Linked DNA regions of Homo sapiens. The protein of the gene in region 3 interacts with the protein of the main gene of each other region in a pairwise test. Each region holds a gene or a part of one and is shown on either strand. Other genes may lie near its edges.

Region 1 (4,537 bases), on a different chromosome or scaffold from region 3:
TCTCAAAGGGGAGCTTTTTTGCTTAGTCAGGTGACCCAAGGACCTCCTGCCAATGCCCTATCCATATCACCCTATGGCTCTGTTACTCCTTTTCTTGTGAGGTCTGATGTCTACTCTCTGCATTTGCAGACTCGTGGGTTTGGGAGGTACCTCCATGATGATGGAGTTAAGCCCTCAAAGCTCTGTGCTTGCTGTGTCCCCCAGGTGTCTGTTTAGAGAAGCACTTCCTCCTGGGGGGAACCCGGAGGGCTTCCAAGGCTGCTGAGCCATTCTCCTCTGTTCATTTTCCATTACTGCAAAATTCACACACTCTCCCTGCTTATAAAAAGTAGTGGCATTTTTGCCAGTCCTCATATTCTGCAGTATCCAACTCTATTGATTCTTTTTTCTTTTCTTTCTTTCTTTTTCTTAAAAGAAGGATAGTCTGTTTCCTTCTTTCAGGAATACTCAGTGTTACTAATAGGACAAGAGTTCCTTAGCATTCCAGAGAGAGAAAAGGGCAGAGTCAGTTGCCTGTTTCTTTTCTTAGTTCCTTGAAAAATAGATGAGCCATCTTTCTTTTCTGTCACTTAGTGGGAAAGGACTCTCATAAATACATTTTTTTTTCCTAGAGATAGTGAGAAGTGACAGGCAACTCACATCTTTATTTGCCTGAAAACATGCAAATGCAAACATGTGACCCACTAGCTGATAGAGGCTACAGGATTTTCCTCTTTTCCTGAGCCTGGTATGAAGCCAAAACACCATTCCAGCCTGTCAAAATCAAAAGGCAAAATTCTTTGGCTGTAAGAGGCAGAGGGAGTCCAGCCACACTCGCTAGCTTAGCATAGATATGCAATACACAAAGGAAGACAGCAGAGAGATGAATCATACAAATACGTAGTAAATAAATATATTTTATTTTCATCTCAGTAGCTTTTGCTTTTTTTTTTCTCTTCCATGCTAGGAGGTGGGGGTGGGGTGGGGTGTGTGAGGAAATAGTAGGTTTTGGCTGGATACAGCTTCAATAAGGTCTTGATAGTTCTGGCCTTGTTGCTCAGCTCTAGCTTTTTAAGAAAAAAAGTGTAGATTCTTAGATTAGAAGGCTTTCTTTTATTATTATTATTATTATTTTTTGAGACAGAGTCTCACTCTGTCGCCCAGGCTGGAGTGCAGTGGTGTGATCTCGGCTCACTGCAACCTCTGCCTCCCAGGTTCAAGCAATTCTCCTGCCTCAGCCTCTTGAGTAGCTGGGATTACAGGCCCACACCACCACACCTGGCTAATTTTTGTGTTTTTAGTAGAGACGGGGTTTCATCATGTTGGTCAGGCTGGTCTCGAACTCCTGACCTCGTGATCCACCTGCCTCTGCCTCCCAAAGTGCTGGGATTACAGGCATGGAACACGGTGCCTGGCCGATTAGAAGGCTTTCTAATTCAACCCCTCTCATCATACAGATGAGCAGTCTGAGATGCAGAGAGGGGACTGATAACAAAGTCATAGACCCAGGGAAGTGACTGTTCATAGGGGTTCTCTGGTTCAACAGCCCTATGCGATGCTGGAATAACCTAGACAGGCCAAGCTGACAAGAGGGCAGGAGAGTGAGTCTGGAACCAAGATATGCCCTCCCAGGTCACAGCGCTACATTGAAGAGAAACAGACTGTGCCTTCTTGAATTTCGGACTGCATTCTCAGTAGCTGAGGCCCTACCTGGCAGCAAAATATCTGGTCCTGGCTCTGCAAGCAGTTGTTGCCTCTGGCATGTTAGAGCCCTTGGCCAAAGGGCTGTTCCTGTCTTCTTGTTCTCAAGGATAGCTAACCAGCCTGCAGGTACATAGAGAAACCAGCCCTGGGCCCACCGGGCTGCAGGCACTCGGGAGCTGGATCTTTCACAATCTCCAGACCCAAAGGTGGCTTGGCGATTATTTGTTTATCAAACTGCGGCTTCCCAGCCCACTGCCTGCCCACACCCACCTACCCTCCCGCCTGCCCACAGGCCAGCCTCCCTGCTCTTCCCACCTCTGGGACAGGCAGGGCCCTCCATGGTTTTCCAGATGTGTGCAGGGAGTTCTCCTCAGAGCCCCCACAGTCAGACAATGGCCACACACTGCTTCCTAGGCCTTCCCAGGCAGTGCTAGAAGGAGACGAGCAGCCTTCCCAGGAGAGGCGGCCGGCGCCGCTGATAAAATATTGGCAAAATTATCACGAAAAGCCAGAGTCATGAAGCTATCCCTCTGCCAAGGAGCACGGAAAGCACCAAAAAAGAGCCTGGGGGTCATGTGTCCAGAGATGCCAGGCTTCCTTCCTCTTTCCAGGCAGCCCGAGCGCAGGCTCCCTCACCTCCCGCCCCCACCCCTGTTCCCATGGCAAAGGAGAGGAGGATCCACTTACTGCTAGTGTTCATGGTGATGTCTTTGCACTGGGTCTTTCATTCAATACGGAGGCCCCGGCTGCTTTTTAAATCTTCCGTTCTTCGAACCTCACTCATCACCTGGGGGGTGAAAAGGCAGTCCAGTGCCAGCTCTGTATCCTCAGGTGCTCTCTCTCCCTCTGCTGTCCCCTCTCTGTCTGGGCTGTAGCCCCTGGCCTTGAAGGCGCGTGGACTAATAGGCGCAGGTGAGAGCAAGGAGAAGGAGGCGGCAGGACACCGGCGCCCCGGTCCTCCTGCTCCTCAGATTGGAATCCCGGGCAGAAGTGGGGTTGGCAGCGCCTGCTCGCGCGCACCCCGGACTATTCCTGCCCAGCGGCTCCGGAGCCCAAAGGGGGTGTGGACCACAGGGAGGCAGGGCGGGGGCAGCGCGTCCCCGCCCGGCTTCAAGGAGCAGCGACCCGCCCCGGAACCCACCTCTCGGCCAGTGTCGGGAGCCAGAGGCCCCTGCCCCGGCCCCTGCGACTGATTTCATGAATCCTGGTCCTCGTCTGGGGTCTCGAATTCCAGGGCTAGCAATGCGAAATAGGGGAGCTCGACATCCATGATGCGGGCTCGCGGGTTGGCAGCGCAGGGGGCGCGGCCGCTCGCTGCTGCCACCTGCTGGACGCACCGGCGCGTGTCCGAGGCCCCGCCCCGCCGGGCTTCTGCCTGGGCCCTAGGGTGTGATGGGAGATGGACGAGGCCTTGTGAGATGGACGAGGCCTTGTGTCCTGGGACCAACGAGGGAGTGCTTGAGCGCTTGTTTTCCCTCCCTCGATCCTGGGGTTCTAAGGGCTCGACAATGATAGGAAAAGAAACATCATTAGGAGGGGCCGTGAAGGAAAACCTGGCTTTGCAGGAAGACAGTTTCCACCCGGCTCTGCTCTGGCAAGCTTGGCGCAGTCTAGGCTCAAGCCGGTCACTACCGTCTCTGCCTCATCTTTCTCAACTATGAATATGGCGTCTGGACAAGTGGATAACACGTAAGGGGCTCTTCCAGCCTCCCAGCGTTTATGTCCCCTCTTCCCTCACAGATTCCCTTTATCCTCTATCGCTGATTCATCATTAGAATTGTTTATTACCTCTTTTCCCCACGAGAATGTTAGCTCCGTGAAAGAATGGGTCTGTCCGTAGGGTTCACCTACAGGCCCCCAATACCTAGCACAGGGCCCGGCATATAGTGGCTACCAATAAATATTTGTTGACAGAGCAACCCAGACATTTTCTGGGTTTAATATTACACAGCCCTAAGAGTAGACTGCCTAGGCGCCCCACCCTGAAACACTTCCCCGTCTGAGGAGAACAGCAGGTATGTGGCCTCACAGGTCCACCCTAGTTTTCATATGGTCAACTAACTCTTCCCCCAAGTTGTTGTTGTTTTTTTTTTTTTTTTTGTAATTATGTCTTATACGTGTGTATTGTAGAAGTTTATATTCCAAAGTGTTTTAGTCACAATTGATTCAGTGGGGTAGGGCTCTTTACATTCCTGTGACTACTTACTCTGTCACTTTCTGAACCTAATTCATGATCATAGAAGCATGACTTTTGAGTGCTGAAAAACAAGACTGTGAGGGCACATGATCCTTGTCTATAGCATGACTTCAATTAGAGCATGTGCAGACTCAAAAGGCTGTGAACACTCACAGCCCCAGCTTAGACAAGGAAACAGGGTGTCAGAGAGGCTGGGCAACGTGCCCTAAGACACACAGCATCTTGTGGCAGAATCGGACCAGATCTTCTCACTTCTAGCTTGATCCTGTGTGAGAGTGGCTCAGTGCACTAAAGTCTGGGATATCAGTGTGAGATTAGATAGCTGCCCTATTAAAATTGGGGAAAGACAAATACGATGTTTTTATACAATGCTTTTAGATAAATACAACGTTTCTACCTTACACAGGGAGGAAAAAAAGGATATGGCTCATGACCCCGAGAGGTGATCAGGATTAAAGAATCTTTGGATAAACCTAAGGATCAATAGATTTGAAACACATTTGATAGATTGTTAAGAATTTTGTCCACATGTTCTCACTCATAAGTGGGAGTTGAACAATAAGAGCACATGGACACAGGGAGGGGAACATCACACACTGGGGCTTGTTGTGGGATAGGGGACTGGGGGAGGGATAGCATTAGGAGAAATACCTAATG
Region 2 (4,011 bases), on a different chromosome or scaffold from region 3:
TCAGCTCACTGGAAGCTCCGCCTCCTGGGTTCACGCCATTCTTCTGCCTTAGCCTCCCAAGTAGCTGGGACTACAGGTGCCCGCCACCACACCTGGCTAATTTTTTGTATTTTTAGTAGAGATGGGGTTTCACCGTGTTAGCCAGGATGGTCTCGATCTCCTGACCTCGTGATCTGCCCGCCTCAGCCTCCTCCCAAAGTGCTGGGATTACAGGCGTGAGCCACCGCGCCCAGCTGCAAACTCTTGATAGAAACCACCTATGCCTTTTTTTTCCCCACCTTCCGCTTCCCCAAATCAACGCCTGGCCAATGTCAGGACTATAAAATGTACTTTAGAATTGTCCTTTTCTTTCCTTGCTCTATTAGCAGTTTATAATGCATAACTTATGCTTTTTTCTTCAGTATGATTGTATATATATTCTTCAGTTGTAATACAAAATGTAATTCAAAGTTGAATGCTACATAACTACACTATCATAGTAATTCTGAATGTTAAGTTTTTATCTAGAAATGTCTAGAGCCAGAAACTCTGCCACAAATCATAAAAATTGTTTTCCACCTATTCTATTCTCATCACTGCCTTTTAAAAGTAAAAAACAAGCTGGGCACGGTGGCTCACGCCTGTAATCCCAGCACTTTGGGAGGCTGAGGCAGGTGGATCACCTGAGGTCAGGAATTCGAGACCAGCCTGGCCAACATGGTGAAACCCTGTCTGCGCTAAAAATAGAAAAATCAACCGGGTGTGGTGGCAGGTGCCTGTAATCCCAGCTACTTGGGAGGCTGAGGCAGGAGAATGGCTTGAACCCGGGAGGCGGAGGTTGCAGTGAGCCAAGATCGCGCCACTACACTCCAGCCTGGGTGACAGGGCAGGACTCCATCTCTAAATAAATAAATAAATAAATAAAACAATTACTCTTGAATTAGTTTCACTGACATGCTTAGTAGAATTTGAACAGTATGGTCTTCTTTCTTAAAAAAATATGTGTTTGAAATAAACTAGAATTTATTCTAGATAAGTTTATAAATATTTTATATTTATGGGTTATAAATCACTGTGGGTAATATCACTCAGTGATTGATATTTTAAATAAACCATAAAGTACTGAAAAGCCCATGAGACTGAGTCCAGAGGAGGGGGTCCTACCATTCCCAGGCTCTGTGGCTCCCAGGAGGGAAACGTGGTTTCCTCCTCACTCAAAAGAAGGGAGTTAATGAAATAAGATTTCTTCAAGCTTTAACTTTCTGTAACAGGATTAGCAAAGAACATTACCTGACTGGAAAAAAAAAAGATGATATATTTTTAAAATTCCTTATTTCTCTCATAACTAAAAACCCCACTTAAAATGTTATTTTTGGCTGGGCATGGTGGCTTACGCTTGTAATCCCAGAACTTTGGGAGGCTGAGGTGAGCGGATCATTGAGGTCAGGAGTTCAAGACCAGCCTGGCCAACATGGTGAAACCCCATCTCTACTAAAAATACAAAAATTAGCCAGGTGTGGTGGCAGACACCTGTAATCCCAGCTACTCAGGAGGCTGAGACACGAGAATCGCTTGAGCCCATGAGACAGAGGTTGCTTGAACCCAGGAGACAGAGGTTGCAGTAAGCCGAGATCATGCCACTGCACTCCAGCCTGGGTAACAGAGCAAGACTCTGTCTCAAGAAAAGAAAAAAGTTATTTTTTGGCCAGTTGTGATGGCTCATGCCTGTAATCCCAGTGCTTTGGGAGGCTGAGGTGGGCAGATTGCTTGAGCTCAGGAGTTCGAGACCAGCCTGAGCAACATAGTGAAACCCCCATCTCTACCAAAAATGCAAAAAATTAGCTGGGTATGGTGGCACACCTGTGGTCCCAGCTACTTGGGTGGCTGAGGTGGGAGGTTTGTTTAAGTCTGGGAGGCAGAGATTGCAGTGAACCAAGATCGCCCCACTGCACTCCAGCCTGGGTGACAGCATGAGACTGTGTCTCTAAATAAATAAATAAAATGTCATTTTTATTCATCATCCTCTCTGCTTATTGCCTAGTGTCTGATCACAAACCACAAGATAGTTCTTTTTTTTAAGAGACAGGATTTCTCTCTTTCACCCAGGTGGGAGTGCAGAGGTGCAGTCATGGCTCACTTCAGCCTCAAATTCCTGAGCTCAAGTGATCCTCCCACCTCAGCCTCCCAAGTAGATTGGGACCACCCGATCATACTACACACAGGTAATTTTTTTTTTTTTTTGTAGAGATGGGTTCTCGCTATGGTGCTTAGACTGGCCATATACCCCTGGCCTTCAGGTACCCTTCCACCTCAGCCTCCCTTCCAGAGTGCTGGGATTACAGGTGTGTGCCACTGCACGTAGCCAACATAATTCTTTTATATTGGTTTGAGGGTCATTCCTATGCTCCTCTTTTGAAAATAGCCAATGTGGCTAAAATAGAGTGCATAAATTAAGAGTGTTATAACTTAACTGACTTTTAAAGCCATTACTATTGACCTTTGAGACCTGGCTTTTTTCTTTGGTCCCATCAATCACTTCTGTACCACCTCCCCCAGTATAGAAGGACAAAAGGTTAGACAGATGCAGATACAGCTTGTATTACTGGGAATTATAGTGGTAAGAAGAAGGAGGTGGGGAAGAATAAAGGAACTACCATGTTTTTAGTTCTTATATTTCATAGTGATTATAACTAATATAATTAGAAGATTAAAAAATATTAATACCTTTCTATATTTAGGTCATACTACTAGATATTACACTGGAACTTCAGAAGCAAATTATGTCTGAATTGGAAATTCTTTATAAGGTAATTTTTTCATAATTTTTATTTGTAAAGCATGCCTATGGTATTGACTTGCAGGTTTATAACTACTTTTGTCTTATTTTTGTTACAGTGCGATTCATCATATATCATTGGATTTTATGGAGCATTTTTTGTAGAAAACAGGATTTCAATATGTACAGAATTCATGGATGGTGAGTTTTCCCTTTTATAATACTTTTAAAATGATTTTTAGAGTATATAGTGCTTTAAAACCTGGTTTTGATATAGATATCAAATAGAATTAAAGATAATAAAATATGCTAATAATTACCTCATTTATACTCTAAGATTATTTCAGTGTTAGGGGTTCCTGGGGTTAAATATTTATAGCCGAACTGTAATTTTAAGAATTGAACTTCACTTTTATTGAAAATTTAAATAGAACAGATTAAATGCTAGTCTAATTGGTGGTTTGATATTTGATTCTTTTGCACAATCTGTCTTTACTTGCAAAACAGATGTTCTGTTCTTTTAATGTTTCAATAGCCAAAACAGATTTTCTTTTAAAGAAATCTATTAACCCAATGTCCTGTGTCTTTCAGAAAGAAATCGGTTCTTAATTGCAAGATAAGAAATTGTTTTTCAACACAGCTGTTTAGCCAAGATGTGTTTAATTTTCTTTGGACTTTAGCCCTTTCCTTCCCTCTCTATTTTTTTATTCATTTCTATTTTGGTAGTTCTTTCTTGACCTGAATATTACGGCAAAATACAGATTTCTAGGGACATATCAGTGAAATGATGTCATCATTATTATTATTTACCAATTTTAAATCTAAGCAGTCTTTAAATTTTACATATTCAGTTTTCCATAGTCTAGTCCATTAAAACACAACTTAAGAAAATATTGTTAGTTCCTTGTGGAGATTCTCAGTACATTACTAAAGCAATTAGTTTGTGCCCTGCAAAACTTTAATGAGCCAACATTGGTACCTTGATACTGTCATAAGGTGTACAACATGCTCTAAATTAGTTATAGTAGAATGTCAAAAATTAAAAATCTTACAGCCATATAGGTAAGTATGGTAACTGTGGAGACTGACCAGAAAAAGTGGATTCATTGAGCCAGTACATGTTACTGTGTTGTAACTTTTATCATTCTTTCTTTGAAGTCTTCAATTTTTCAGTTCTACTCAAACATTTTTGTTGAAACAGGGCACGGTGGTTCACGCATGTAATCCCAGCACTTTGGGAGACTAAGGTGGGAAGA
Region 3 (4,011 bases):
GGGATTATTCTGGGACTCTGTGCCACTTTGTGGGAAATTTCTGTCCTCCAGCAGCATAGATTAAGTTTCTCCCTGACTCACCTTGTCTCTCACTACCTGGCTCAGCAGATAAAGATAAAGGGGGCTGCAAGAGGATCCTGGTTCCTGATTCCCCTTACCTTTTCCTGTTTCTTTCTCCCTGGGCAGCATTCCCATTCACCACGCCTGTTCTGGTCTCCCAGCTGGAGCAAGGGGAACTGCCATGGGGCCTCGATCCCTGGGAACCTATGGGCAGGGAGGCTCTCAGAGGTATCTGTCCAGGTGAGCATGAGAACCCACTAGCTGCCTTTTTGGCTTGGCTTGCTTTCTTGTTTTCACATTTCATTGTGCAAGAAGTGTTTCTTCTCTTGGGAGACTGTTTTTGTTCCTGTGGAATCATTACATGTGATTCTCTGAGTTCATGGTGGTAGCCTACCTCAACTGGGGAAGGGCCAGTCTCTTTTAAGACAGGAATGACTGTAAGATTTCTTTGCATATTCGTCTTTGCCTGTCCTCCTCACAACCTGCCAAGGGAGACTGTCTGATTGGGCAGCACTTAAACCAGCTCATTTCTTCTCTGTCACATGAAAACATTTTATTTTTCTGCCAGTTTGTTTTTGCAAAGATGAGGATGTCAGCCACCTTTGGAGGAAAATAGGCTTCTGGCAACATGGCTGGCCATCTGCATATCATAGGCTACATTGTTTAAGCACTGACTTAAAGAATAAAAAGTTTGTTTTTATAATGGAAATTTTCAAATATATGCAAACACCAGCATAATGCACTCCATGTATCCTTCATCCAGCTTCAACAGTCACAAATATCCTTTGATTCTTATTTCATCTTTCCCCCACAGATACTTAAAAAAATTTCTGAAGCAAAATTTATTGTAAATTAAAGGTGAATAACTTTCTCACTTCGATGGCTATTGATATAAGAATTAAAAATAGGCTGGGCATGGTGGCTCATACCTGTAATCTCAGCATTTTGGGAGGCTGAGGCAGGTGGATCACTTGAGGCCAGGAGTTCAAGACCAGCTTGGCCAACATGACGAAACCCCGTCTCAACTAAAAAAAAAAAAAAATATATATATATATATATATATATATATATATATATATGGCCAGGTGTGGTGGTTCATGCCTGTAATCCCAGCACTTTGGGAGACCGAGGTGGGTGGATCACCTGAGGTCAGGAGTTCGAGACCAGCCTGGCCAACATGGTGAAACTCCATCGCTACTAAAAATACAAAATATTAGCATGGACGTGGTAGCACGTGCCTGTAATCCTAGCTACTCAGGAGGCGGAGGCAGGAGAATCGGTTGAACCTGGGGAGTGGAGGTCGTAGTGAGCTGAGATCATACCATTGCACTCCAGCCTGTGGGCAGCAAGCCACCCAGGTGCCAAGGCAAGAGACTGAGGGCACAAGCTGTTCCAGTATAATAAAGAAAATATATAGAATAAGAATAATTATGCTAGAAATAGATTATAGATATGATTATATATTAATATTATTAATCATTAGTTTGTAGCATTACTCTTTATTCCAATATTATAATAATCTCTGTTCTACAATTATAACCTAGGAAAAACCAGGCCATACAGAGATAGGAGCTGAAGGGACACTGTGAGAAGTGACCAGAAGACAAGAGTGTGAGCACTCTGTCAAGCCGGGACAGGGCCACCAGAGGGCTCCTTGGTCTAGCGGTAATGCCAGTGCCTGGGAGGGCACCCCTTACTTAGCAGACCTTGGTCTAGCGGTAGCGCCAGTGCCTGGGAAGGCACCCGTTACTTAGCAGACCGGGAAAGGGAGTCTCCCTTTCCCCGGGGGAGTTAGAGAAGACTGCTCCACCACCTCTTGTGGAAGGCCTGACATCAGTCAGGCCCACCCGCAGCCATCCGGAGGCCTAACCATCTCCCTGTTGATGCTGTGCTTCAGTGGTCACGCTCCTGGTCCACTTTCATGTTCTGCCCTGTACACCTGGCTCTGCCTTCTAGAAGAAATAATGATGTAAGCTGTCCCCTCTCTCTCTCCGCCTCGGCTACCAAATAGGGAAGGGCCCCCTGTCTGGTGGACATGTGACTCGTGTGACCTTACCTATCATTGGAGATGACTCTCACTCCATACCCTGCCCCTTTGCCTTGTACATAATCAATAACAGCACGGCCAGGCATTCAGGGCCACTACCAGTCTCCGCATCTTGGTGGTAGTGGTTCCCTGGGCCCAGCTGTCTTTTCTTCTATCTCTTTGTCTTGTGTCTTTATTTCTACCATCTCTCGTCTCTGCACATGAGGAGAAAAACCCAGAGGCCCAGTAGGGCTGGACCCTACACCAGCCTGAGTGACAGAGCGAGACTCTGTCTCAAAAAAAACCCAAAAACATCAAAAATTAGCTGGGTATGGTGGTGTGCACCTGTAGTACCAGCTCCTGGGGAGGCTGAAGCATGAGAATCACTTGAACCCAGGAGGTGGAGGTTGCAGTGAGCCAAGATTGCACCACCACACTCCAGCCTGGGTGACACAGCGAGACTCTATCTCAAAAATAAATAAATACATAAAACATAGTATATTTTTTAATCTTTCTTATTCTGCTTCACCCATTCTCTGCCTGTGAAAATTTTCTGTGCTCTTCTGCAGAGAATGCCCATTACTGATCCACCCCCAAGTCTTGAGTTTAAGTTGTACCTTTCTGGATGTGACCTCAGGACCCTACGTCATCTGAGTAAAAATATTTTCTGAACAATTTTTTGTGAATGCATGCAGGCTGAAGATTTTACTTAGTCTGCAAAAGGTTTTGATAGTGGAGGGAATATTTCTCTTTGGTTTTCCCTTATTATCATGTGAGTTTAGTAGTTCACTTTTCAAACTGTTGTATTAAACAAATGCACAACCTATGAGACCTTTTAGGAAAAATGGCAAGCATCGTTACCAGGCCCTCTTTGGGACTTACATTCACTCTTGGAAGAGTTCTTCACATTTCCAGTGCTTTTTGGTTTTAAAGGCAAGCCTCCAAACCTTCCTTTCTCCTGGATGCTGTGGTGGTTGCCATGCATGGCATCCTCAACCACTGCATGGGAGCCTGCTGCTTTACTAGAGCCAGCTTGATGGTAGAGATCAGCTCTCTTTTCAAGGTTATGACATGCATGATGTCTTTTAACAAGCATCTCTTAAGGAATCTCAGCCTGTGGGACCTGTTGTAGTGCTTGAACTGCTCAGCCTGCCCCTTCTCTAATCTTGGGAGTCTTCCTCTCACTTATGGATTTCCATTTGTTACTTTTTTTATGTTTGCATCTTTATCCACCTCATTCATTTTTCTCTTAGTCTTTCTGCCCTAATTAACAGTCTTTGCAGTTTTCTGGTTTTCACACTGTTTATGGGAATGCCTCCTGGCCTTGCTTCCCTCCCGTCTCATAGAGTTTTCATGTCCCTTGCAGGGCTCTGTTGTGTGGTGATCTTAGGCAGCCATCTTGTGAGCATATTAGAAAATATCCATATATTCAGGGCAAATTAGAACCACTTGATTCTGTTTCTTCTTCAGCACAGATATTGTGTGTGTGTGTGTGTGTGTGTGTGTGTGTGTGTGTGTGATATCAGGGACTGACATTTGTATTTTCTTTTTGTGATAGGGGATGAGGCCAGAACTGAGAAGGAAGGATTAACTCCAAAGGATCATGTGTCCAAAGAAACAGAGTCCTTCAGACTGATGGTGGGGGGCCTGCCAGGGAATGTTTCCCAGCACCTTGACTTTGGGAGCAGCCTAGAGCAGCCACAAGGTCATTGGATAATTAAGACAAAGTCAAAGAGGAGACATTTCACAGATACCTCAGCCAGGCACCATGAGGCCTATGAGGTCAAGAATGGAGAGAAGTTTGAGAAATTAGGAAAAAATATTAGCGTCAGCACACAACTCACTACAAATCAGACAAATCCTAGTGGTCAGATATCTTATGAATGTGGACAATGTGGCAGATATTTCATTCAAATGGCAGACTT
Region 4 (4,011 bases), on a different chromosome or scaffold from region 3:
AAGTTTGGCCTGAATAGCTACTCTTCTGAGTAGCTTTTCTACATTCTTTCAGTTAACAAGCAGCTGAGTGGGAAGTGCTTTTAAAGTGTTCTTGGACCTGCTTGTTCCTGTTTTTAGACATGGAGAATTCAAATCAATACGGCCAAGACTATTCCTAGTAACAAACTATAATAAAGCCATGTATCCATAACCATTTGTATTGGTGCCACAATGGAGTGGGACATGTTAGATTCAAATATTTTCTAACTAAAAAAAGATTTTGATGGGTAGAAGAAAAAACTTACTTGCCTCCCAACATCAAACCTTCCCTTCTTTCTGACATACTCTGGTTTTTATTAGTAACAACATGTCCAGTTAGCTTCCCATCCCTTGTAGGTAGGGGTGGTCATGCTATACAATGTTAGTCAATTGAGGCCACTGGCTTGAACTTCTGGAAGAACTCTTTAAAGAGGACTGACTCATTTGGCACATGCCCCCTTTTCCACTATCCTTCTCCTTATTACCACCTTTTACATGTACACAATACTGGAGGCAGATAAGCTATCTTATGATTTCAGGTGAAAAGCATATGTTGAAAATAGCTAAGGTTAAAAGGAGCCTGGGTTCCTAATGCGATCAAGGAGTAATCACTTGAGGTCTACTAAAATACCTATTTTTGGATTTTTGTTATACCAAAGAAACAAAATCCTTCTCTTGCTTAAGCCATGGTTTCCAGGTCTCTGTTACCAGAAACCACCATTTTTCAAGTCTCTGGTATTAACTGCTGAACTTAATCCTTGAAACCCTGGGCAGTTGGTTCAATCTCTTTCCAAAATAGAAATACCTATAATATTTATTAACAGTTGACTATTCAGGACTACTTAAATGCTTCCAATGACAGGAAGCTCAGAAACTTAAGATCAGGCCATTTCAATGTTAATAGCAATAACAGGCTTACACTGAGCAGAAATCTACCTTTCCTGTGACTTCCAACCATTATCATGGAGCTATAGTCTAGTGAGGAAAATTTATTTTTCATAACGTTAGCATACGATGCTCAATAAGCTTTGGAGAATGAATGACCAATTAAAAATACCTTTCTTTCAAGACCTAGGCTTTAAGTTTCCTGCCCAGGCTAAAAAGTGTATGGCATGGCTGGGTGCAGTGGCTTCACACCTGCACTTTGGGAGGCTGAAATGGGTGGATTGCTTGAGGCCAGGAGTTCGAGACCAGCCTGGCCAACATAGTGAAACCCCCATCTCTACCAAAAATACAAAACTTAGCTGGGCGTTGTGGCACGGGCCTACAGTCCCAGCTACTCGGGAGGCTGAGGCACAAGAATCGCTTGAACACAGGAAGTGAAGGTTGTAGTGAGCTGAGATCATGCCACTGCACTCCAGCCTGGGCAACAGAGTGAGACTCTGTCTCAAAAAAATTAAAAGAAAAAAAAAGTATATGGCAGCACTACCAAATTGAGCCCCTTTCTTCTTCACTTAAAAATTCAGAGAGGATGCTACCAGATAGATTTGAATCAAATACCGCGTGGTGTTACCAGATCCATCAGGCTTTTGGGGACCCTGTTCATTTCAAAATACCCCATGAACCTTCTTTGCTTTCTTCTAGAGCTGGACCTCATTGAAACACCAAGAAAACAAACAGCTCTAACACCAGGAGTCCAATATACTTCTGAGTCCTCACAATCGACCAGAGGGACAAAATTCAGTGGGGTGTACTAGCTTTAGAATCACTGCTCACAAGAAACAGTGTAGCACTTTGTTCATCTGGAGTGCTTCACACATAAAGACAAAAATAAAGACATAACTAAACATATAATAACACATACAAATAAAGGTGTTATTTTAAAACATATAAAGAAATATGTCACATACCAATTTATACATAAACAAATAAGTGAAAAAATATATATCATGTGTGTAGTGCTGTTTGCCTGTCTAAGGTGTTATTCCCAGGGCATGTAAGAAGTAAACATATATATACACACATACACACATTAACATACATATACATATTCTTTAATAAAAATATTTTTTAAATATTCTTTCATCAACTCCAGACTCACACTTTCTCACATTTTAACATCTCTAAAATTGGAATGCATTTTACAATCTAAGGCACTTAACAATTCAACTGGAAGTGTTTAACCTTAGCAATGTATGTAATGATGCATCTTACAACAGAGGTGCTTTAGGTTCAATAAATTATGGAAGGCTAACTCTACAATAGGTATTTCTTCATATATTTGAGAGCAAACATCTTATTCCTAAAGAGTCTTCAAGCAGAGAATCCTGAGTGCTCGTATGATAGAGAAAAAAACTCTACTAATATACAGCAGGGCAGCTATTTTGGAGATAACCTGGCAGTACACTTAGTTAAATGAAGGAGACATTTATATATGTCAAAGACATGCTCACAGAGGTCCAGAAGAGAAATGTCTAATGCTGCATGTGTTGCAAGGAGCTGGAGGCAATCTGGATGCCTAGCAATGTAGGAGTAGAAAGACTGGTAGACGCACACAAAGAATTACATAAGAGTTGGAAGCAAAGGACTAGATGTATACAAAGTAATAGATAACTTCAAAAACAGTGCTGAGTAGGAAAAAAGAGATGAGAACTAAAACAAAGCATATAATTTACATTTCTGTAAAGTTAAAAGATACACATTCTCAAGAATACATGTAAACAAAACATTAAAATGTTTGCATTAAGAAATGGAATGAGCTATAGGAATGAAAAGAATAAATACATTAGAAAAACAGCAGCCTTTCAGGGATCAATGATGATTATGTGTCAAACTCAGGAACACGACTATTGCAATCTTCTACATTTTCAGTCAAACTAGAAAACCACAACAAAAACTACACTAAGCACCATGGAAGTAGAAAAATAATAATATTGTGCTGAGTAAGTATAGCTACAAATAAAATAATATGTAAATAATAAGTTTATTATTAGTATACACCAAGCATCTATGAGCTTACATACATTGATTAATCCTCCCGATAATTCCACGGAATAAATACTATTATCATTTTATAGGAAATCACGGAATAAAAACATTAAGGAATTTAGTAAGGCTGGAATTCAAAACCCAAACTGTGTGCATCTAGAACTGTAATTTGGATTTGTTACACTAGAGAGCCTGTCATGAATCAACCAACATTTCTATAATATAAAGCTTACACCTAAAAAGAAGCAAAGCCATTGACAACCAAGGACAATGCAAGTTGAAAACAAATAATACAAGAGGTGGCTGAACAAAATGTAAGTCTGGATATGGTATACAGGTGGCACTTAAAAAAATACTTGTTGACTGAGTGGGTGAATTAATGAATGGGAGATAACCTCAGGTTTCTTCAATGAGTTGCACTAAGGTCTGGAGAGGTGAAGGTAGATGGAGTTCATGTGAAATGCAAAAAGAGTAAGGGAATAGGGATGGGAAACCACTGGATGCATGGATAAACTACCAAGTGACCTAGACTAGGTAGGTGACTGTATAGGGTACCTAAAAGAAAGTGTTTGGAGCTTCACTTGTGTAGAGTATAGGCTTTAGACTTCCTAGGTTTGAATCCTATCTGGCTCTATCACTTTCATCTGAATGGCCTTGGGTATGCTATTAACCACCTAGTGGCTTTGTTTAATCAGAGCAAAATGGGGTTCAGTCATTCATTTAAGAAATAGCTGGGCACTTAATTTGTGTCAGGCACCGTTCTAAGTGCTGGAAATACAACCATGAATACAAAAACATCCCCGTCCTCATGGACCTCATAGTCTATTCACAGACAAATAACAAACAAATTCAGTCCGATGGCCATAAAAGGCACAGAAAATGAAAGGGATGAAACAGATAAGGATGCTATGTTAGTTGAAAACAACAACGGCTAATACGTCTTGTGTGCTTATTTTTTTTTCTCCCCTCAAAATTTGTATATTGAAACCTAATCACCAATGTGAGTAGCAGGAAGTTGGGGCCTTTGGGGTGATTAGGTTATAAGGGTAGAACCCTCACTGTTGG
Region 5 (4,011 bases), on a different chromosome or scaffold from region 3:
GAAGCTGCACACCAACTTTTAAAATACTCTTCACCTTATCTTTAAGCCCAGTCAAACACACACATACATCACCCTTCTTAGATCTCGGCCATTAGTATTCCATTTAGACTTTCCAAAACAAGGTCATCCCAGAGGGTCCTTCCCCTCTTTCCAGTCACAGCTGTGGACTTTCATCCCCTTGTCCAACAAAAGGGACCTTGTACACAAAATTAACCTGAAGCATTAGTCTGTGTGGTGCGAGAGTCCACGGGGCCCTCGGGATATTGACTCCCCCACCCCCCCAACTATCCAGGCTCAGCCCAAAATCCTGTCTAGAGGGCTTCCCCACTGTGGAGGCTGGGGGAGCTTCCCTAGAGATTAGAGACCCTGCCCCTTCAGAATCCGCTTCTCAGCTGCAGCTGTGCAGCCAAGGAAGGCCTTACCTTTCAGAGAATAAACAGAAGAAAAAAACTTCCTCCCTGACTCAGTAACAGTAGAAAACGACCTGACGTCATGGCTGCAAAGGCCCAGAATCATCTGAGAACTAAGCCATCCAATATGACGGCCACAACTGCACGCGGCTTCTGAGCACTGGACATGGGGCTGGTTCTGAGCGTTGAGACCAGAACATCATGGTGAAATCGTGGGTTGCTGAAAATATCTGTTTTAAAGTTAATTCCACCTGTTTCTTTTTACTTTTTATGAATGACTACTAGGAAATGTACAATTACATATAAGCTTGTACTCTCTCTCTCTCTCTCTCTATTGGACAGCACTAGAGAGGTGCAAATGTTACCACCTCAAGTGCTAGCACATTACCATGCTCTAAAAGGAAAGACTCTTCCTTTTTATTACTATTATTATTATTATTATTATTATTATTGAGTCGGGATGTCACTCTGTCACCCAGGCTGGAGTGCAGTGGCACAATCACGGCTCAATGCAGCCTCTACTTCCTGGGCTCAAGCAATCCACCCACCTCAGCCTCCCGAGTAGCTAGGAATACAGGCGTGCACCACCACGCCCGGCTAATTTTTGTATTTTTTTTGTAGAGACAAGGTCTTGCCATGTTGCTAAGGCTGGCCTCGAACCCCTGGGCTCAAACCTCTGGGCTCAAGAGATCCTCCTGCCTCAGCCTCTTGAGTGGCTGGGACTACAGGCACATGCCACCGAGCCTAGCTAATTAAAAAAAAAAAAAAAAAGTTTGTAGAGACAGGGTCTCCCTATGTTGCCCAGGCAGGTCTCAAGCCCCTGAGCTCAAGCAATCCGCCTGCCTCTGCCTCCCAAAGTGCTGAGATTACAGGCTTGAGCCACCACACCCAGCCCAGATTCTTCATTTTTAAATGCCAAAAAGACCAGTGTAAAATTGAGCAAACAGCATCATCTGGTATCAGGTGGAATCACATACGCAGAGGCTGCTCAACTCCCAGGCTGCAGTGAAGGTGTCTAAATGGGGGGAGTGGCCGGGAACCTGCCATTGTTTTAGACCAGGAGAAGCAAATGTAACCTCTATTTCAGGTGTTCTTAACTGGAGGCGATTTTGCCTCCCCAAGGGACAGTGGGCAATTCCTGCAGACATTTTTGATTGTCACATCAAGGGAAGAAGGTGCTACTGGCATCTAGTGGGGAGATGCCAGGGATACTAAATGTCCTACAATGCACAAGGTGGCCCACTCCCCCCAAAAACAATTATCCCCAAACATCAACAGTGCCAACACACAACCAGGAAGTGACCAGGCCTGAGATCCACCCAAGTATCTCTTTTTTTATTTTTTTATTTTTAGTAGAGATGGAGTTTCACCACGTTGCCCAAGCTGATCTCAAACTCCTGAGGTCAGGCAATCCTGCCTAGGCCTACCAAAGTGCTGGGATTACAGGCATGAGCCACCATGCACAACCCAAGCAAATTTTTAATACTCAGATATCCAGGAGCAGGAGGGGACATCCCTTTGCAAAATGGCTTCTCTCCAGAGCTCGGAACTGGTCATAAGTTTGAGCGGTATAAGCAATGTGAGGAAATGAAAATACTACTAATAATTTAAAAACTATAATCGCTTTGTCGCCAGACTGGGTTGAGTGTCAAGGGTTGATTATGTCTGGGCAGCTCTGTTTTTCAAGCTAGTAGGTAAACATGGGGCTTAAAACTCAAAGCAACATAAGGCAGGCTCCCCCACAAGCAAGAGTAGGCCTCTAACAGAGAGTCTGAACTGGGGGAGTCACTGGCATGCCCAGTTCACCATGCCTGACCACACAGGCTAGGCCTGGGTGCCTGTGACAGGCAACGGAGCAGCAAAGGAGCTGTGATGGGGCCTGCAGGTATAGGAAGGGGACAGGGCAAGGGACAGGCGAGGCCAAGACAGGAAGAGCGTGGTGCTGAATGAGAACAGCCCAGCCAGGCTGGGAGGCCGAGCAGGAGGGGGTAGAGGGGAGGCACATGATAATTAACTCTGCAAGTTGATAGTATTTGCATATAAATGCCTCCACAAATCACTACAAACAAGCCAGGACAAGTCAGGCCTATTAGCATACACAAGCCAGCCGGGGAAGGCCTCTCTAGGTGGGTCATTGAGTAGGCTGCTCACTTGGAGGGCCGCCTGCCAGCCTGGGGAGGGGGACAGAAGGGGAGGGCTGGGGTGGATGGGGGACACTGTAACTATTTCAGACTCTTTCACTTCTGAACACGGTTGCAAAGATGTCAAAAGGAGTTGGCTCTATTTCCACCCCATGGGGAAGAAGAGAATTGCTGGACCTTTTAGTTTATTTCTTCCAAGGTGGTAAGAAACGAAAGGTAGCAGAGGCCATCAGTAGCAAAGAAAGAAATGAAAAGGGCGTGGAGATGGCAGCCAATATCCGGAGAAGCTTTTCAGTATGTGAAGTGGTATGAAGCCCTGATTCCTATTTCATTTACTTCCCACTACAAATGTAAGGTATGCATTAGGCCCATTTTACAGACGAAAGAAGTGAGGCCCAAAGAGGTTAAATTACTGGTCCAAAGTCACACAGCTCAGGCCTCACCAGAGGGTGTAACACTGATGGCCTCAGCAGAGGGTGTAAGGCCCATAGCAGAGGAAAGAGCAGAGGCCACCTTTCCAAAGAGTGGGCTTTTTTGATTCACCTTTGCTTCTCCCATTCACTGTTGAGTCCCCATTTGAAGGGGATTCACAAGCAGTGCTCTGGTCCTCAGCCAGACCCTGCCCTGTTTTATTCTGTAATTATTTCCTACCTTCAAACAAACAATGAGGAAGACCACACCTCCCTCCAGTTACACATCTGGGAGTCCGCACCAGGATTTCCTCTGTCACCCAATTTTTCCACTGTCTGGACAATTTTTATAGTTTCACCAGCAAGGGCAAAATATATTGACAGTCCTTTCCCACAAGGTGTAAAAGTTCTCTGCTTTCCCCAAATATACCTCTGGATTTCCTATCTGTTGAAGGAAAAACCAGCTTCGACTGCCTCCGTTAAAAAAGGGTGTGCAGGGCTGAGGTGACCCTACTACCGTCATTTCTGCCATTCTTTACTTGAACAACATTTTTTAAGTGGGCAAAATACTATCTTATGAAAAACAAACCAACAGGGGCCCAGGTAACACACATTCATATAGTCAGTTACACAGACTGAAAGTCTTCATCAATGCCCATCTCAATTACGTTATCAAATAACATAAGGGGACACTATTCAAGATTCCATCAGAACAGAGATGGCATTTAAAAGCAGTCGCTTGAGTAGTGACACCAACCTCCTGCCGCACACACTGAAATCCATGAGCCTCTTCTAAAGTGTCCAAAAGTTGACCTGACACTTTAACGCTGATGCAGATACTCCACAAAAAAAAGCGGAGCTGTTAAAAGGGAAGCAGAAACCATTCCTCCAGTCAAGGCCAAATGTACATTAAGAACCAAGGCCTTGAGCCAAAGAGCATTTTAGGAAGCAGGGCCTTAAATGGTGGAAGAGGCTTGCATTGCTTCTTGAGTAGTTAAGAACAATTGTTTAAAAAAAGAAAAAAGAGAAGTTGGGAGATGGAGAAGAAAG
Region 6 (4,011 bases), on a different chromosome or scaffold from region 3:
TTTGGTCTATGCTAAGAACTGTCCCAAGATGCAACCAAAATGTATATGATTTTAGGGACTCAGTGGTCAAATATTTATGGACCACCTTCAAGTGTATTTAGAACTCTGTGGAAGGATGGCACAGAGTTCTAAGTTACAGTTTTAAAGTTATCTATAATTCAGTTCTCAGTTATCTATAATAAATTTGAGAGATGCAACACCTACACACAAAACAACTAATAAAGCAACCCAATATATAGAACAATTAGTGTTATGGCTATAACAATAATATGTGAAATGTTAAATTGTGTGCTACAAATACAGAATGGCATGTAATTAGCTAATTGTTTAATATTGTAATCAGCAATAATATTGATGTGAGGTATAAAGTGTGCTACAAATACAGAATGGCATGTAGTGGCATGTAACTAGTTAATCATGTTCATTCTGATCATTGTTGGGATTTAGGTAAGGAATTAATGTGATTTTATTTTATTTATTTATTTTTTTTGAGATGGAGTTTCTCTGTTGCCCAGGCTGGAGTGTAGTGGCCCGATCTCCGCTCACTGCAAGCTCCGCCTCTCAGGTTCACTCCGTTCTCCCTCCTCAGCCTCCCAAGTAGCTGGGACTACCGGCGCCCGCCACCATGCCTGGCTAATTTTGTTTTTGTATTTTTAGTAGAGATGGTGTTTCACCGTGGTAGCCAGGATGGTTTCGATCTCCTGACCTCGTGATCTGCCCGTCTTGGCCTCCCAAAGTGCTGGGATTACAGGCGTGAGCCACCGCGTGCCCAGCCATGATTTTTTTTTTTTTTTTTTTTTTTTAATGATGGTCAGACTCCATGAAGCAGGTGGCAGTGCCTTACCATATGTGTATTGTCAGGCCCGAGGGCCTCTTCCATCTTTGTCAAGTGGAGTGCCAACCTCTCCTTTCGTATAACACAAATTCATGTGATTTTAATGAGTGTTGCTTCTATGATTATATTCAAATGTCATAGTTTTTTAAAGCCTTTTTTTTTTTTGAGACGGAGTCTCGCTCTCTCGCCCAGGCTGGAGTGCAGTGGCGCGATCTCGGCTTACTGCAAGCTCTGCCTCCCGGGTTCACGCCATTCTCCTGCCTCAGTCTCCCGAGTATCTGGGACTACAGGCGCCCGCCACCATGCCCGGCTAAATTTTTTGTGTTTTTAGTAGAGACGGGGTTTCATCGTGTGTTAGCCAGAATGGTCTTGATCTCCTGACCTCATGATCCGCCCGCCTCGGCCTCCCAAAATGCTGGGATTACAGGCGTGAGCCACCGCGCACAGCCAAGCCTATTTTTTTTCTTATTTTACAATTGAAAACAGTGATTATTGGAATTTACTTTGAACAAGTGCATTATCAAATTAAATATATGAGTGTCTTATGTTCAGGATATGGTGCTTGACATTGAAACAGATGGACTCTTGCCTTAAATGTAGGGTAGTAAGTAATAAAAGGCTAATGTAATATATCAGATCTAAGGTATATGTAAATGTGATTTTTAACAATTTCAGAAGAAAGGGGAGATTGCAGCAGGTAGAGCTGGTCTAGGAAGCCTTCTTAGAGGAAGGATGTGATTTGAGGCTTTATGTTAGCAAGGCATAGGAGGATGATTTTGTTCAGAAAGCACAGGAAAGATAAAGTGCTACTTGAAGAGAGCAGTTAGTGGTTCTTCCTTTCAGTGCCAGATTGATGAGTATTTGCTGCTTTTTGGCAGAAAACTTTTAGCCTTTAATTACTAATGACCTGCCTCATTTTTCCTTTCCTTTTCTTAGTGAAGCTATTAAGTACCTCACAGAAGCTCTTCAGTCTATCAGTGAATTAGAGCTTGAAGATAAACTGGAAAAGATAATTAATGCAGTTGAGAAGCAACCCTGTAAGTAATATTTTCTGATAACTCCTAAATTGTTAATATAGTTCTGCATCTTCAGTTAGATGTATAGATTTAAATTGAAGTTGAGGCTTCACTATTAAGATGTCCCAGTGTTATAAGATGTATGCATGGTAGCATTTCTTCCCAAGGGGTAATACCTTTAGTTTATTTTAATTTTTTTTTCTTTCTTTTTTGGGATGGAGTCTCGCTCTGTTGCCCAGGCTGGAGTGCAATGGCGCTATCTTGGCTCACTGCAACCCCCACCTCCCGGGTTCAAGCAATTTTCTTGTCTCAGCCTCACGAGTAGGTGGGATTACAGGCACACACCTCCATGTCAGGCTAATTTTTTGTATTTTAGTAGAGATGGGGTTTCACTGTGTTGCTCAGCCTGGTCTCAAACTCCTGGGCTCACGCAGTCCACCTGCCTCGGCCTCCCAAAGTGCTAGGATTACAGGCGGGAGCCACCACACCCGGCCTTTTTTATTTTAACTGTTGATGACATCCAAACCCTTAGTTTAGTTGGAACCTCAGGATGATCCCCAAGGGCCCTTTTATAGTTCCTTTCCCCCAGTGGAGGTGTCACCACCATGTTTCCTGCACTTGGCTTCTGATTTTGATCTGGTCCTTTATGGTCACTTTGTCTCTCCTAGTGGCTATTACCATGTCTTATTTAAGTCATTAACTCCTAAATGTTTGGGAGGAAAAAAAGAAGAGTAAAGTAAACAGAGCTGACATCTCTTCTTGATTTCTTCAGGGATTTTTTTTTTTTAATAGAATGGCTAGTCATTTTAACTTAATTTTGTAAGTCTAAGTTAAAGGGCAGAGACAGTAACTTTTCAATAAAAAGCAATTCTACTAATGCACTGATAATGAATACACTAAACAGAGTTGGAAGGCATTTTACTGAAAGCAAACTGTAGAAAATAGACTTTTTTTTTTTTTTTTTTTTTTTTTTCCCTGAGAAGGAGTCTTGCACTGTCGCCCAGGCTGGAATGCAGTGGTGCTATTTCGGCTCACTGCATCCTCTGCCTCCTGGGTTCAAATGATTCTCCTGCCTCAGCCTCCCGAGTAGCTGGGATTACAGGTGTGCGCCACCATGCCTGGCTAATTTTTGTATTTTTAGTGGAGACGAGGTTTCACCATGTTGGCCAGGCTGGTCTCGAACCGCCAACTTCAGGTGATCGCCCACCTCGGCCTCCCAAAGTGCTGGGATTACAGGCGTGAGCCATTGTACCTGGTGAAAATAGACATTGATACAAAATTATATAACGCTTGTGATAAGAATAAGTGGGGCCAGGCATGGTGGCTAACACCTGTAATCCCAGCACTTTGGGAGGCCGAGGCTGGTGGGAACGCCTGAGTTCAGGAGTTCAAGGTCAGCCTGGACAACATGGCAAACCCTGTCTCTACTAAATATACAAAAATTAGCCAGGCATGGTGGCAGGCGCCTGTAATCCCAGCTCCTTGGGAGGCTGAGGCAGGAGAATCGCTTGAACCCGGGAGGCAGAGGTTGCAGTGAGCTGAGATTATGCCACTGCACTCCAGACTGGGTGACAGAGTGAGATTCCGTCTCAAAAAAAAAAAAAAAAAAGAATAAGTGGATTTCAAGAAAAGCACATTCTATAAAAGATGGTCATTTTTTTCTTGAGTATACCAAAGTTATGAAACATAAGGTGACCCAGGAAGGTAGAGGTTTGGGAACTCCTTCAAGGCATTTGCTTTCTACACACTGCTTCCCTCCTCTCCCTTTTTTTTTTTTTTTTTTGGTGAGAGCGGGACAGAGTCTCACTCTGTTGCCTAGGCTGGAGTGCAATGGCGCCATCTCGGTTCACTGCAATGGCGCCATCTCGGTTCACTGCAATGGCGCCATCTTGGTTCACTGCAGCCTCTGCCTCCCGGGTTCAAGCGATTCTTCTGTCCCAGCCTCCTGAGTAGCTGGGACTACAGGTGCGTGCCACCACACCAGGCTAATTTTTATATTTTTGGTAGAGACAGGGTTTCACCATATTGGTCAGGCTGGTGTTGAACTCCTGACCTCAGGTAATCCACCCACCTTGGCCTCCCAAAGTGCTGGGATTACGGGCGTGAGCCACCACACCTGGCCCCTCCTCTCTTTCTTCATGTTCTTTTTTGGAAAGTCAC
Region 7 (4,011 bases), on a different chromosome or scaffold from region 3:
AATTTCAAACACCACGCACACCAAAAAAAACATGTCTGAGAGAGAATTTGGCCTTTGTGTGACCTGTTTGTCAACTCTGGCATAGGCCTGTCCAAAATATCCTTTGCATGGTGGAGAAACTGAGACCCAGAGAGGAAAACGAAGCCCATTGAATGAGTTAGCAGAAGCTCTAGGACTAGAAGCCAGCTTTCAGGTCCTGCTCATTTACTGGGCCAAGAGAATATCCTTCAGAGTATCTGCCAAGGTGTGCCTTTTTAAACACATGCAGACTCAGTGTGCATGTGGATGAAGCCCGGGGCCCAGCACAAGGTGGGGCTGCAGCAGCGGCAGCAGCCTGGATGGGCCTCCCTTCCCTCCCCTCCCCTCCCTCACTAGCCACGGGGCATCTGATTCCTCTGTGGGTCTCTGCCCTGTGCACTGATGAGACAAACTCAGGGAAAAGCCCACCTTCGATGACAGTGAGTCTCACTGAGCAAGCGGCCTCTCCGTACGCATTTACTGCTGTGCAGCGGTACAGATCCGTGTCCTCGCCTGTCAGCTTGTTGATCTGCAGAGAGGCCAAGGGCAGAGGAACAGGGCTACCACATCCCCTTCCTCCATTTACTAGACACGGCTATGTGTTGGGGGTATAAAGTGAGTAAGACATGGTCCTTGTCCTCATGGAGCTCACAGTCTTTATCAGGAAAGACAGACCCCAAAACAGAAACCTGGTTTGGGACAGAGGGTGGATGTATCAATTCTTTGCCATCAGAGGCAATGTAGCGAAGTAGAAAGAGTGTGCTTTTTGGGGTCAGATGGATCTGGGCCTGAAAACAGTCTCTGTCCTGTATTACTAGCTGTGGGACCTTGGGCAAGTTACCTAACTTCTCTCAACTTCAGTTTCTTCATTTGTAAGATGGGAATATAATACCTCAAAAAAGTGGTGAATAATTAGAATTAAATATATAATCTATGTCAAATATTTAGCCCCTGGGACATAGTAGGGCCTGGCACATAGTAGGTATCCCATGGTTAGTATTTATAATATTGCTCAGATTAGCCAAGATTGATTGAGTACTCACTATAGGCCAGGCACTAGCTAGACACTTTACATAAAACTTTCATCCTCATAACAACTCCTGGCCAGGCGCAGTGGCTCATGTCTGTAATCCCAGCACTTTGGGATGCCGAGGCGGATGGATCATTGTTGGTCAGGAGTTCAAGACTAGCCTGGCCAACATGGTGAAACCCCAACTCTACTAAAAATACAAAAATTAGTCGGGCGTGATGGCGCATGCCTGTAATCTCAGCTACTTGGGAGGCTGAAGCAGGAGAATCGCTTGAACCTGGGAGGTGGAGGTTGCAGAGAACCAAGATCACGCCATTGCACTCCAGCCTGGGCGACAGAGTGAGATCCATCTCAACAACAACTCATAACAACTCCTTAAAGTAGGTACTATTATTATCCCATTTTTACAAATGAGGAGACAGAGGTAAAAAGAGTAAAATGACTTTCTAAAGCCAAGGTGGTGGGCCTGGGATTGTAACTCCAGCAGTCTGACTTCAGAGCTTGAGCTCTTAAGCTCCAGTCTACACCACCTCCCAGGTTATCAGCAGAGGTATCTGCAAGCCTGCCAGATCCATTCTTGGCTCAGGCAACTTTGAGTCACGAGATGGAGTTGAATGGATTCAACCTCAACGAGGAGTATGTCTTACTCCTCTAGGGATTGGAGGCTGCCAAAGAGACCTTCAAGGGGATGGGAAAAGACGAGTAGACCCTGGTCAGGGGAAGAGCTACGGTTCTTACCTGCAGCACGTGCTCCTTGCTGCCAGGGCTGGAGGAGATCTTGTACTTGCTGGAATCACTGAGGTCACCTTTGGAGTTCTGCCAACGCACCTCGGGCCTGGGCTCCCCACAGACCACAGCCCGAAAGACAGCATTTTTCCCTGCAGCAGGAAGAGACGAGTAGGGAGACTGACAAGTTGGGAGAGGGTGACTGTATACTTTATTTAAATTTTAATTTATATCGTCTTCCTCATCTAGGTATTTCAACTGCCCCTTCCAAAAAGGATGCCAGGCCTTGGTCCCCTTGACTCAGGACTCAGAATACGCAGGTGGAAAGCAGCAGATTCCAGGCACCCAGAAGGCAGTGCTTCCTCTTTCTATATTGCAGAAGCTTGGGCTGCTTGAGGGAAAGAGACAGGTGGACTGGCCCTGGTGAAAGGGGAGGCCAGCAGGGCTTTAGGGGACAGGGGCTTTTCTTTGAGAGTGGGTGAGCAAGGAGTCTGAAGGCTCTGCCAAGACTAGGAAGGGAATGAGATTTTGTGAGTTCCGGGCAGGCGCAGGGGCTCACGCATGTAATCCCAGCACTTTGGGAGGCCAAGGCAGTCGTATCACCTGAGATCAGGAGTTCGAGACCAGCCTGGCCAACATGGTGAAACCCCATCTCTATTAAAAATACAAAAAGTAGCCAGGCTTGGTGGCATGTGCCTGTAATCCCAGCTACTTGGGAGGCTGAGGCAGGAGAATCACTTGAACCCCAGAGGCAGATGTTGTAGTGATCAGAGATTGCGCCACTGCACTCCAGCCTGGGCAACAGAGCGAGACTCCATCTCAAAAAAAGAAAAAAAAAAAAGAAGAGATTTTCTGGCTTCCCTTCCTACTCTCTAGGGGGAGGAGGAATCACAACTAGGAGAAGGAGTGACTATTTGGTGCCCGAAGGATCCGGTGCTGAGACACAGGCTTCAGCCTCAGAAAAGACCCCATGCTCCATGCCTGTCATGGAGGCCTGGGAACTGCCCGCCCTCAAGGAATCCCTCAGCCTCCCACCAGGAACATCTCAGTAGACAGCAATATAGACCAAAGGCCCAAGGGCCCTTCCCAATTTCTCATTACCTTGTTCCAGATTTAGAAAAATAAAATACCATTCTTTTTCTTATTACCAGGATGCTATGAACTAAAATTTATTGCAGGGTGTGTGTTGGGGAAAGAACACCAATTCCCACTTTTTCCCCAATAAGCCTTTGTTCCCACCACTTTCTTGGACACCTTCTTATGTGGCCTTCTAGAAGGGCCTTCCTGAGCCCAGCCTGTGAGCCACAGCAGGTGCTGCTGCCTGGAGGCGAGGATTGGGAAGAGTCAAATTAACTGTTTTAACAGTGCCTCTCTGCAGCAGTGGCTTTGAGGTGAGGAGACAGGGACCAGGAAACACCACAACCTCTCCCTGCTCCCCAGTTTAGCATTTTTCCATCCCTGCCCCCCAGATATTTCTCACACCAGAATAGCATGGTGTCTCTTCACTCTCTTTATCCACTCTTTTCCCCAGGCCTCTTGTCACTTCTAGGGTTCCAGGTAAGCACATACCCCCTCAAGGATAGGAGGGAGATGGGCTATGGCCTAGTGATGGATATAGGGCCTGGGTCCCCAGGAAGGTTGGTGCCCCAGCCCTCTCCCCTGGGAGGTAGGAGAGCAAGAATCTTGCCTCCCCTCCGCAGCTCCCCTCTGGGCTCACCCTCTGGCAGAGCCGAGGTGACGGGCTTCTGCTCAAAGTCCGGCGTGCTGCAGCCTTCAGGGATCTCCTCCACCAGCTGCCAGATGCTCACTCCAGGGATGTGGGACTTCCGGAGCTTTCCTGGAGAATGCAGGAGGGAAGGAGATGGGGCCTTCCACCTTCTTCCTCCTGGGTGGCCCTTCAACAGAATGGGCATCCACCCACTCACCCCAGGAGCAAGAAGCCCCTTCTCGCTCCTACTTTTGGGTCAGGATTATTTGTAGTACCTCCTGCCTGTGCACAGTGCTTTTGAATTCTCTAGTGGGAATCTGGTGGCACACACTCTGGCAGTGTGAATGGAGCCTCTAGGAAGTGGGTGGGGCACCCTAGGAAGACCCTGAGTGTGTCACTGGGGAAAAGCTGGGAAGAAAGAGTGAGAAAGGGCTCCTTCTCAGGAAGCCAAGAAGCAGGAGCTCGTGTGGGGGCTTTGCACTCCTTACTCAGGAAAACAAATCAAAACCCAAAGCCAAGACTCAAAAAA

The links.
Region 1: the proteins of ZNF620 (region 3) and ABLIM3 interact in binary tests that used the Homo sapiens proteins (3 or more experiments, as listed by UniProt).
Region 2: the proteins of ZNF620 (region 3) and MAP2K5 interact in binary tests that used the Homo sapiens proteins (3 or more experiments, as listed by UniProt).
Region 4: the proteins of ZNF620 (region 3) and PIBF1 interact in a two-hybrid assay, tested with the Homo sapiens proteins (one large-scale study listed by BioGRID).
Region 5: the proteins of ZNF620 (region 3) and ZFHX3 interact in binary tests that used the Homo sapiens proteins (3 or more experiments, as listed by UniProt).
Region 6: the proteins of ZNF620 (region 3) and POLE2 interact in binary tests that used the Homo sapiens proteins (3 or more experiments, as listed by UniProt).
Region 7: the proteins of ZNF620 (region 3) and IGFN1 interact in binary tests that used the Homo sapiens proteins (3 or more experiments, as listed by UniProt).

The regions. Positions count from the first base shown.
Region 1 is NC_000005.10:149,139,942-149,144,478, reverse strand, and holds the start of ABLIM3 (actin-binding LIM protein 3), read right to left. Parts: upstream 2,987-4,537; 5' UTR 2,825-2,986; intron 2,749-2,824; exon of another isoform or gene 2,471-2,748; 5' UTR 2,384-2,470; coding exon 2,371-2,383; intron 2,364-2,370; exon of another isoform or gene 1,690-2,363; intron 1,047-1,689; exon of another isoform or gene 881-1,046; intron 1-880. UniProt on the Homo sapiens protein: May act as scaffold protein. May stimulate ABRA activity and ABRA-dependent SRF transcriptional activity.
Region 2 is NC_000015.10:67,643,514-67,647,524, forward strand, and holds part of MAP2K5 (dual specificity mitogen-activated protein kinase kinase 5), read left to right. Parts: intron 1-2,717; coding exon 2,718-2,786; intron 2,787-2,874; coding exon 2,875-2,956; intron 2,957-4,011. UniProt on the Homo sapiens protein: Acts as a scaffold for the formation of a ternary MAP3K2/MAP3K3-MAP3K5-MAPK7 signaling complex.
Region 3 is NC_000003.12:40,512,216-40,516,226, forward strand, and holds part of ZNF620 (zinc finger protein 620), read left to right. Parts: intron 1-186; coding exon 187-300; intron 301-3,644; coding exon 3,645-4,011. UniProt on the Homo sapiens protein: May be involved in transcriptional regulation.
Region 4 is NC_000013.11:72,785,073-72,789,083, reverse strand, and holds part of PIBF1 (progesterone-induced-blocking factor 1), read right to left. Parts: intron 1-4,011.
Region 5 is NC_000016.10:73,037,954-73,041,964, forward strand, and holds part of ZFHX3 (zinc finger homeobox protein 3), read right to left. Parts: intron 1-4,011.
Region 6 is NC_000014.9:49,681,454-49,685,464, reverse strand, and holds part of POLE2 (DNA polymerase epsilon subunit 2), read left to right. Parts: intron 1-1,771; coding exon 1,772-1,872; intron 1,873-4,011. UniProt on the Homo sapiens protein: Accessory component of the DNA polymerase epsilon complex. Participates in DNA repair and in chromosomal DNA replication.
Region 7 is NC_000001.11:201,193,754-201,197,764, reverse strand, and holds part of IGFN1 (immunoglobulin-like and fibronectin type III domain-containing protein 1), read right to left. Parts: intron 3,612-4,011; coding exon 3,492-3,611; intron 1,927-3,491; coding exon 1,787-1,926; intron 548-1,786; coding exon 448-547; intron 1-447.